Linked DNA regions of Homo sapiens: region 2 is linked to region 1. The links come from fine-mapping of genetic effects on gene expression. A gene starts in region 1. The other region holds a variant in brackets. All regions are shown on one strand. Distances are between the middles of the regions.

Region 1 (5,383 bases):
TGGTCTTGCTTTGTTGCCCAGGCTGGCCTTGAACTCCTAGGCTCAAGTGATCCTCCCACCTTGGACTTTCAAAGTGCTGGGGTTACAGATGTGAGCCACCACGACCAGCCGCTATAGTACACTCAAAAAAATAAAAAATTTGGCTGGGCGAGGTGGCTCACGCCTGTAATCCCAGCACTTTGGGAGGCTGAGACAGGCAAATCACCTGAGGTCAGGAGTTCAAGACCAGCCTGGCCAACATGATAAAATCCCGTCTCTACTAAAAATACAAAAACTAGCCTGGCGTGGTGGTGGGCGCCTGTAATTTCAGCTACTCAGGAGGCTGAGGCAGGAGAATTGCTTGAGCCTAGGAAGTGGAGTTGCAGTGAGCCGAGATCGCGACACTGCACTCCAGCCTGGAGGACAGAGTGAGACTCCATCTCAATAAATAAATAAATAAATAAATAAATTTAAAATAAAAGGTTTTATCTCCAAGGCCCGTCAACCAAGCCTAGACATCCTATTCCTCCCCATCACCTAAAATCTTTTAAAATCTATCAAAATGCAAGAAAAGGGAGAGGCTTAAAATGCAATACCTAGCAGAATAAAGAATTGGTATGAAAGAATTTCAAACTACATAATACATTGAGGTATCAGATGTGTCCCAATTTTGAGAATGAGTAAAGGAGCAATGAAGTGTCAGTCAAGAGAAAAGGGAAGCAGAAAAAAGAGACTGATGACCCCGCTTTACAAATTTTCACAGTTTAGACACGTTTATCTTTACCTCCGGATAAATGGCTGTTCTTGGTCTTGTGTGCTAAGGGAATGCAGAAATAGCTCTACACTGAAGCCCCTTAGCAGAAATCATGGCTTCCACTGCCATCACGTGGTTGAAGTGAGGAAGTGCACCAAGCAGGTTCTAGGAACCTAGGAATGCCTACTTGAAGCCCATGGTATAATTAATCCGTGATCAAAGACCTAAAGATTGCGGTAGTAGAGGGCAAACTGGTGACAGTGTTTGCTAAGAGATTCATCTTCTAAGCTGCCAATACACAAAAATCTAAGTTTTTATTATTAATTGGGAGTAAGAAAAAAGATTGCTCCTTTTTTCTTTTTCATGTTAAAGATCGTATATTTAGCAATTCTAGGATGCCCAGTCTGATATTAACGTCTCAAACCCAACTTCTGGTATATTATATGACTACTTACAAATGCCTCGATTTAATGCATATAAATGGGGTAATGTACATTTCTAGCACACATCAACAACCTCATCACGAACATAAGCAATTGTCTCATTAAATGTGCTAAATTCCCTTTGTCATCTTCAATTTAATCAAATAATAATTTTTGACTAGAAGTATAAGGTACAGTCTTAAGCACAATTCATAAAAACCAATTCATCATGTTCTCAAAACTCATCAGCTAAACAAATATATCACTAATATAATCAATATTATTCACAAAAAACACGATGAATAATTAACACATCATTCCTGATAGTTCTTTTCATAGTAAAAATAAGCTTGCCCAGTGGGATATTTGACGTTCTCTGCATTATTTAATTCCCTACCTTCCTTCTACTAGATTGAATATTCAATTACAAACATACCTCTTTAAAATTGTCTACACATACATATCCACTTGATTTTATTTTGTTTTCAAAAGCATCTGAACTCAAGGCTAGGGCACTGTAGACCAAAATGTCAAATAATTGTATTGGGTACATTTTTCCAATTCTCAGTTGTTTTTATATTGTAAACACAGCATAATTGTGTCACTAAGTATATTTTTGATCTTCACTTTCTCCCCTTAAAACCTAGACACCATTATCCTGTCTCTGAACATTCCAAAATATTAATAATCCAACTAGTTTTCCCTAATCCTCTAGGTTCTCTTTCCCATACACTCCCCAGCCAACACTCCCCCACCCCTTTCTTCCGTTTCAGAATGCCTCTTACACACACGCCCCGTGTAGTTTTTACAAAATCACTCCTTGGAATGCGTTTCCTTCTTCTCTCCTTAACTTGGCACCCTTTTTGAAATAATTTCCCACAGCTAGGCGCCAATGTCTTTCATTTACAAGATCAAACTGCGGAAGGGGAAGAGATTGGGAATCGAGTAACCGAAACATTTGGAAATGTCAATGAGACAGTGGCCTCTCCTTTGAAAAGAAAACACAACTCTCAGCACAGAGCTTTCAACAGAGCACAGATACTTTTCTTCGCTGTGCTCCTGTTCCCTCCCTGACCTCAAAGACACCTTCCCTTTTCTCTGATCCCCAGTCCCTCTGCTATGCGTGGGGCCTGCCTTTCCTCCTCCCAAGGAAAAGCAAGCCAGGGAGAAAAAGAAAAGGTAGCAGTCACCTTCCCGCCCGCAAGCGGTCAGGACCCTGTCCCACGACTCACCTGGCAGGTGCGGCCGCCCGGAGAGTTGCACGAAGCGGTTGAGCTGGCCAGTCCCCCGACCCCCGCTGCCCCCACTGCCCCCGCCGGCCCCGCTACCTCCGCCACCAGCGCCGGCGGCGCCTCCTCCCCTCCGGCGGTTCCTGTCCCAGCCCTGGGCGGCCGACATGACCCGCTAACGATTGCCGCAGCCCGGTCCCGTCAGCGCCTGACCCAGCGGAACCAGCGGAGCCTCCTTCCTGGGCTCCTCCAGAGACCCAGGAGACAGGGGAAGGGGGCAGCGCCCGGTCCCACCAGAGACCAATGACTTACCGCCTTGGTGAAAGGCAGCCAATGGTCAGTCGTTTTCTTGGTAGGTGGCGGGAGGCGGAGAGAAACGTGGTAACCATAGCTATGGCTAAAAAAAAAAAAGTAGGGGGAGAGAAAGGCAGAAGCAGCCACTCCTAGCTCTCATCGTCCGCTCTGGGCTGGCCGGCGTCACCCCGACTCCTGCGGGGCCAGGCGGGCCAATCGAAGACCGAGTGTCAGAGGCCGCGCCTGCGGAAAGACTCCCGGGGACGGCCAGTGCCTCAGTCTTGGTTAGGATTCAGGAACTTTTTCCCATAAACATTGCAATCAGACACTGGATATACGCATAATACACATATTTGGGGGCAAGACGGTATTCTGCCAGCTTTTCAGATTGAGATCCCATTCACTGATGGTTGACACACACAAAGGGCTTGCTTGGGGTCCGGGTAGGTGAGGGGACCCAGGGGCGGAGTCAAAGCTAAAATGTAAGAACCAGATATTCCTGGGTTTCATTTGTCTTTCAGTCGGCTTAGCTGCATTTGTCCCTGTATAAGCCACGTCCCAATCAAACAGTTTTAAACCTGGTTAACAAATATGGGAAAATGTTCACTCTCACCTGTAATCTTAGAAATACAAAATAAAACCCCAATGAGAAACCATTTCTGGTTTATTACATCAGTAAAGACTTTTCAAATAACACCTGGCAGTGTGTGGAATGCCAAGAAAAAGGTATTCTCATAGATGGCTGATGGCTCTGTAAATATTTTTGTTCGCTCAAACTCCTTTTGGCTAGTAGAAAATTTTAATCAGCTTGGAAGATATATAATCAAGAGGAAATGTAAAATTAAATAAAAGGCAGCAACGGGTATGGAAGATCAAGATCAAAGAAAATTTTTAATGTGCCGATCAGGAGTTTCTATTGTTCCAAAATTAAACAGAAATTTTGGCTTGAAACTTACTGGGCGCAATGCAGACTGGGAAAACATACTATACACTGATGTTTCTGAATGATAAGGAAAAAGCATATCAAATTCCTCAAGGGAAACAAAACTTTTCAAGGTCCTTAGATGTGACAGATTTTTTTTTCTTTTGCATTAGAAGAACCTTACATGGTTGCAGAGAAAAAAAAGAAACTCTGCTGGAGCTGAGGACAAATACCCTTTGTACCTGGTGTGCAAATTTCTGGTCGCCACTGGCACTGCCTCCTTGTTTTCCTACTTCCAGTCCCTGTAGGCAGAAATGTTTTAGTCACTAGCACCATAGCACGCTGCTTATGAAAATGTTTGAGACTTGAAAAAAAAAAAAGCCTATGGTTCTAAAATATAAAAACCAAAATTAATATATGTTAACTGTTTTTTTTTTTTTTTGAGACGGAGTCTTACTCTGTCGCCGAGACTGGAGTGCAGAGGCATGATCTCGGTTCACTGCAACCTCTGCCTCCCAGGTTCAAACAATTCTCCTGCCTCAGCCTCCCAAGTAGCTGGGATTACAGGCATGTGCCACCACGCTCTGCTAATTATATTTTTAGTAGAGATGGGTTTTCACCATGTTGGTCAGGCTGGTCTCCAACTCCCCATCTCAGGTAATCCACCTGCCTTGGCCTCCCAAAGTGATGGGATTACAGGTGTGAGCTGCTGCGTCTGGCCAGTTTTTTATGTATATAGGCAAAATGCAGTCTTACACATTTTACATGTTTAACCTGTCTAATCCTCACAGAAATCCTATGAAATGCTGTTTTCCCAATTTGCAAAGCAAATTTGTAGAGATAGGGCAGTGTGTGGGGATGAGGGGGTGGTTTTGCCTTGTTGCTCCGGCTAGTCTAGAACTCCTGGCCTCAAGCCATCCTCCTGCCTTGGCCTTCTAAAGCATTGGGTTATAGGCATGAGCACCACGCCCAGCCAAAGTAGATTCTTAAGTAACACTTTTTAATTAATCAACTGGGAGAGATGAAATAAGAAAATAACATATAAAGTTTTGGTTGGGCGCGATGGCTCATGTCTGTAATCCTAACACTTTCTGTAATCCCAACCCTTTGGGAGGCCGAGGTGGGTGGATCACCTGAGGTCAGGGGTTCAAGACCGCCTGGCCAACATGGTGAAACCCGGTCTCTACGAAAAATTCAAAAAAATTAGCCAGGCGTGGTGGTGGGTGCCTGTAATCCCAGCTACTCGGGAGGCTGAGGCACGAGAATTGCTTGAACCCGGGAGGCAGAGGTTGCAGTAAGCCGAGATCGTGCCATTTTCACTCCAGCCTGGGCGACAAAGCAAGACTCCGTCTCAAAAATACATACATACATACATACATACATACATACATACATACATACATACATACAATGGCCGGGTGCGGGGGCTTACGCCTGTAATCCCAGCACTTTGGGAGGCCGAGGGGGGCGGATCACGAGGTCAGGAGAGGGAGACCATCCTGGCTAACACGGTGAAACCCCGTCTCTACTAAAAATATTTAAAAAAAAAAAATTAGTCTGGCGTGGCGGCCCGCGCCTGCAATCCCAGCTACTCTGGAGGCTGAGGCAGGGGAATCGCTTGAACCTGGAAGGCGGAGGTTGCAGTGAGCCAAGATAGCGCCGCGGCACTCCGGCCTGGGCAACAGAGCGAGACTCGTCTCAAAAAAAATAAATAAATAAAAATAAAATAAAATAAAATAACATAACATAACATAAAAAGTTTTAGTAGTCCCAAGATTTGGCT
Region 2 (5,383 bases), 66 kb before region 1:
GCTGGGATTACAGCCACCCACCACCATGCCCGGCTAACTTTTGTATTTTTAGTAGAGATGGGGTTTCGCCATGTTGGCCAAGCTGGTCTCAAACTCCTGACCTCAGGTGATCTGCCCATCTCAGCCTCTCAAAGTGCTGGGATCACAGGCGTGAGCCACCATGTCTGGCCTGATATCCACCATTACTCTCTAATTTACACGTGTACCTGGCTGTTGCTTCAATCTGAGACATTCTGTTTATCCCCTTCCTGCTATGGAGAGCAGGACTCAGCTCACTTGCATCACCACCCTCCCTCCCTCGTCCTACATTTAGTTTCTTCTTTATTGGTTAACTTTGTAATTTTTAGTAAATTTTTTTTTTTTTTAGTTGGAGTTTCGCTCTTGTTGCCCAGGCTGGAGTGCAATGGTGTGATCTTGACTCACTGCAACCTCTGCCTCCTGGGTTCAAACTATTCTTCTGCCTCAGCCTCCCAAGTAGCTGGGATTACAGGCGTGCGCCACCACGCCCGGCTAATTTTGTATTTTCAGTAGAGACGGGATTTCTCCATGTTGGTCAGGCTGGTCTCGAACTCCTGACCTCAGGTGGTCGGCCTACCTCAGCCTCCCAAAGTGCTGGGATTACAGGCGTGAGCCACCATGCCCAGCCTTCAGTTTTATTTCTTATTCCATCAACTAGAGAGCAATCACAGTGAATATCTCCATAATGCTTACTATATGCCAGGCGTCATTTGAAGTACCTTACCCATATCTACTTATTTCAGCCACACAGTATGAAATAAGTAGCTAGTATGGAGAGAGGTTACTACTGTTAGCCCCATTTCAGAGAAAAGGAAACTAGGGCCATTTTGTTATTATTTTAGTGGTTCTCCAAGAAGGAGCGGAGAATACCTGTGTACTCGGTCTGCCACTGAGTTCTAATGGGCAAGGATTGGGAAATGTTCATTCTGGCCTTTGCAGTGAAGTCTCCTGCTGGACAATGAAATATGACAATAAAAAGTAAGGTAACAAAATCTCTCATCTTGGCCGGCACTGGCCAGTTAGCTCAGCTGTGGGTCAGGGGTTCCCAAATGTCTTAAACCAGCTGAATTGGAATCAATGAAAGAGTTTATTAAAATTACACACTTATTAAAATATAATCCTTGGGGTTTGGGCCCAGGAATCTGTATTGTTAACAAGTATGGATCATGGTTTTGAAACCAGTGGGTTACAGGTGGCTTGGCAGTGGCCGTGTTCTAGTCCCTACTCCATTTTCAATACTTTTTCTTGGAGCCTGCACTATGCAAGTGGAAATCCTGACTGTGCCACTCACTAAGGAACCACCTGGAGCGGGCAGCAGACCTCCCACCACGGTGGGATCAGTGATCTTAAGATCAGGATCGAGTTTAAGAGGTAACTCCAGTCCTAGCACTGCACACCTATGGTACTCACCATTATGCTGCAGCCTTTTTTGGCCAAACATCCTAAATAATGTTAGATCTTGGGGATTATCTAGCCAACCTCCTCCTATTTGACAGATAAGTAAACCAAGACCCAAAGAAAAGCAAGTTGCATACAGAACAGGGCTATTATGGACTGAGCCAAGAGCAGAGCCCTTGTCTCCTAACCCCCAGGTCATCTCTTCCTAGAATTGCACTAAGAGGTAGCCACTAGCCATGTGTGGTTATTTCCCTATAAATACATGAAAATTAAATCAAATTAAAAATTCAGTTTCTCAGCCATACTAGCCACATTTGAAGTACTCAAAAGCCCCATGTGGCTTGTGGCTACCACCATATTGGGTGGTGCAGATACAGAACATTTCCACCATTGCAGAAAGCTTTATTGCTCTAGCACTGGGCTAGAACCTGGCCTTTCATTTGAAGGCAGTAGGGAAACTGGATGGTTTTACCAATGTTTTCTTCCCTCAAGCAATTACTGCAGAAGATTAACTACAAGAGAATGTGGTTGTTGTTAAAGTAGCTTAACAACATCATTTTAACAAACTAGAATTATATACACATAAACTGGAAGAACAAAACCACGCAAACCAACTAGGCCACTGAAACTCCTCCCACTAGGCCAAGATGGGTCTTAGATGCCTTATCTAAGAACCAAATCAGATGCACATAAGAGTCCATTTCAAAGCTCTGGCTGGTCTGAAGACTGAAAGGTATAGGGTGCATTTCTTATATCTGGTAGCTTGGAGAGGAGTATAGTTAGGAGAAATAAACCCAAGGAAAGAAGACTGCTCTGCATAATAAAGTATTAACTGTAAGGTGGATGAATGGGTAGAAATTGTTTCTCTTCTTCCTTGTAGATGTATATTGTAATATCTAAGATTATTTGTCCATGGAAGGTGTGTTTGATCCAATAGTTAACCAATGGAAACACTGAAAAATACAAGGCATCTGTTCAGTTCTAGAAGGGAGACCTTAAAAGTGACCAGACTTGGGAGTATCCTTCCCTACCTACTCTGGACTACACAGACATGGAGAAAAGCACTGCATGGAGAAGGATTAGAGGATTAGAGATCACAGCATCATAAAACAGAGGTTTGTTTTGGTGAGGGAAGCATCTGGAAGACCAAGGGCAGAGCTAGGAAGTGTAGTTTCACCCCCAGAGGACCCCTGCACAGGGCTCAGCAGCTCCTGGGGCTCTTCCCTCAGATCATAAAGACAGTCA[G/T]ATGACTATATATACGGGTTCACATTTTCCCTTTGAATTCTCTGTAGCTCTTCCAACCCTTCAGAAAAGTCTTGATATACCTATACAAACTTGTCTAGCAGTGGTTTGGGGAACATGGGGTGGGGCAGTGAGAGGGAGTGTGGGCTGCCCGACAGTTGCTCCCTTGCTGATGTCTTTGTGGAGGGAGCAGTGTGCTGGTGAGGGAACTCTTGTGTGTCCAGGAGTTCCAGATAATGAGCAGATAAAGAACCCACAGTGGAGTGGGGGTGGAAGGCAGATGACTCACAGATATTACAGAGAAAAGCTGAGCCTGGTGGAGGTGGGTAGGACTGACGCTTCTGTCATATAGGTGCGCTCACGTACACACAAATTACCATTAGACAATCAAGGTGAACTTGAACCAAATTGATTTGGATAAGATTTATTGATCAGATTGTTTTAGAAAACCAACAGCAAAACACTGACAAGGTACATAAATACAGATTGGACATTTTAGGGTAAATTCACTGTATTTCCTACTTGCTTGTAGGAAACCGAGTAAAGTGGAAAAGCTGTCCTGATCATATGGCATGCACACCAGACTGCAAAAGGACGTCCACACTATTTAACAGGACTGTGGCAAAATAGCTTTAAAGTAAGGCGAGCATTGTGTATGGCCCAAGCATACCCTGTAGGAAGAGCAAAGCTAGGCTCACCTCTCAGAGACTGTGTCTCAGAAAGAGGCTTCCTTTCTTGCCTAGGTTCTTCCATGAAATTCGTCATTGGCAGGTGCTTTTCCAGGGAGATGCCTGTGCTCTCCCTGTGCAGACTCTGTGCACAAGGAAGTGGCTTTAGAGAGTGTGTTTTCTGATGCCTCCTTTATATTCTAAATGTATAACTAGTAAAACAACAATTACTACCGCTTGGTGAAATTGTTTTTTGTTTTTTTCTGAAAACTGCCTCTGACTCCACCCTGTACACTGACTAAGCAGGGCCCTTAAAAAACTTATAAAAAGTTGTTTTTTTTTTTTTTTTTTTTTCAAATTAAAAACATGAAAATTACACCAAAAAGATGGAACTACTTTTGTAGCACAACTCAGAACTTCTGTTCGTAACACCGGACTAGAGAAGAGGTCGCTTTTGGCTGAATCTAATGACCTTAGAAGGGAAAGGCCATTGCTGGGCAGGATCTGGTGGCAACGCACACGGAAGTCCTAGAACTCTATGAAGCCTACCTCAGGCCCTGCGGGTGCGTCTGGAGTTCCAAGGCATTTGGGGAACCAAAGCAATTTCAGCTAACAGTGACCAGTTTTTAGAATGGAGCTTATGATCAGAGGACCATAAACCCTCATCCACCCTAGAGCTCAATGCCAGAAAAATAAAAAATAATACAAAAAATAAAGGAAAATAGCTTTTTGTGCTATATCAGAATGCTGGCAGGTAGACAATTCAGTAACCTGTGCCACTTTCTAAACATCTGTAAGACCACAAAAAAAAAATGGGTTTTACAGAATACGAAGACCAACACAGTCTTAGAGGATCATTCAACCTTTCCTACATGCCAAGCTGTGTGATTGGAAAATAGAAGAGCCATAGCTCTTGCAAGATTAGAGGAAAAGCAAGTATTTGTCAAGAGCCAAAGAAATGTGTTCAAATAATGGAGTTTCCTCTGTGTCGCACACAGCTTTTCCTTCCCGTAGGTACTAAGAGTTCTTTGGTGGTTAGAGAGATGGCCTGGAGCTCAGGGCAGGAGATGACGCTGAAGAGCTACATCTACTCAGGATTACCACCTGTGGTTCCTAATTTCAGCATTCAACTCTAATTGTTCAGCCTGACTAATTACAGGCAATCAGCTGCTTATATGGTCACTGGTTGTCAGCTCCTACTGATTATTCCTTTTCCTTTTCTACCTACTCATTAACCCCATTCCATGGAAAAACAGGTGCTTACAGGAAAGGATAGGGAGGAAAAAGAAATGTAAATGAATCTATTGTTTGGTAGGAAAGTTGATTCACTGATTATCTATGGATTTCAATGATCTGTGCTTTACTCTTGCTACTGTGGATAACCAAAGGTCACTGTTAACGTATCTTTTGCTTAAAAATGTTAATATGCTTATTATGCTTTAAAATCTAGCTATTTAAGGGCATGAATGGTTTAAAGCAAATTTTTACATCATGTCATTATGGCCCTGAAAAAAGGAGATTCTGCCAATGGAAAGGGTTTTGTTTAGCCCCAGTTAAGATTTCAACCTATTCTGTGTCAGTTTATAGTTTTTCCAGGATGTGGAAAATATTAAATGAAGAAAGCATCATTTTCTTCATTTAATAAAGTATTACATTCCCAGATAAATTAGTATATACATAGGAGAATGGTTAGTGTTAAATACTAGGTTTTAATTCTCCGTTTAGGAAACTCCTTACAGATGGACTTCCTTGTTCTCCGGCAACAAAATGTAAGACATGCAAACATGAGAGAGTACAAAGATGACAGGGAGAAAAAAAATCTCAACTCTAACAAACCTAAGGAACAATGAGTCTCTAAGAGTTGGAGTAAGAAAACATGGACTTGAAAATCCAGCTTTATCATGACATGAGTTGGCTTAAGCCAGCTGATCACATCTAAAATTCTTGGCATAATTTGAACCTAAAGTAATGAGCTCACTTCCCCAAGATGCAAAAAAGTAGTCTACCTGCTTTATAGTTACACCCTATATATAATCTGTATATATCCATATGTTTCT

Which allele goes with the higher level. Alleles are on the strand shown, and positions count from the first base shown. SD is a standard deviation of normalised expression in the study named.
In carriers of allele G in region 2, the expression in prefrontal cortex of the gene that starts at base 2,663 in region 1 tends to be higher than with T alone (small effect, 0.27 SD a copy in BrainSeq).

Evidence for each region. PIP is the estimated chance that this variant, and not a neighbour inherited with it, causes the effect.
Region 2: its variant is the best candidate, but not a certain one, in a credible set for the expression of KLHDC10 in prefrontal cortex (BrainSeq, PIP 0.57).

Annotation. Positions count from the first base shown.
Region 1 is chr7:130,067,814-130,073,196 of GRCh38, reverse strand. KLHDC10 (kelch domain containing 10) reads right to left here and starts at 2,663. Exons shown (of 10, transcript NM_014997.4): 1 at 2,388-2,663. The coding sequence starts at 2,553. RefSeq lists a silencer at 2,459-2,628 and enhancers at 2,729-2,918, 2,949-3,148.
Region 2 is chr7:130,133,389-130,138,771 of GRCh38, reverse strand. KLHDC10 (kelch domain containing 10) reads right to left here. Exons shown (of 10, transcript NM_014997.4): 10 at 3,067-5,383. Among named protein-coding and RNA genes, the nearest start is that of LINC03008, 5.7 kb to the left of the region's middle. The variant G/T (reference allele first, on the strand shown) is at 2,662.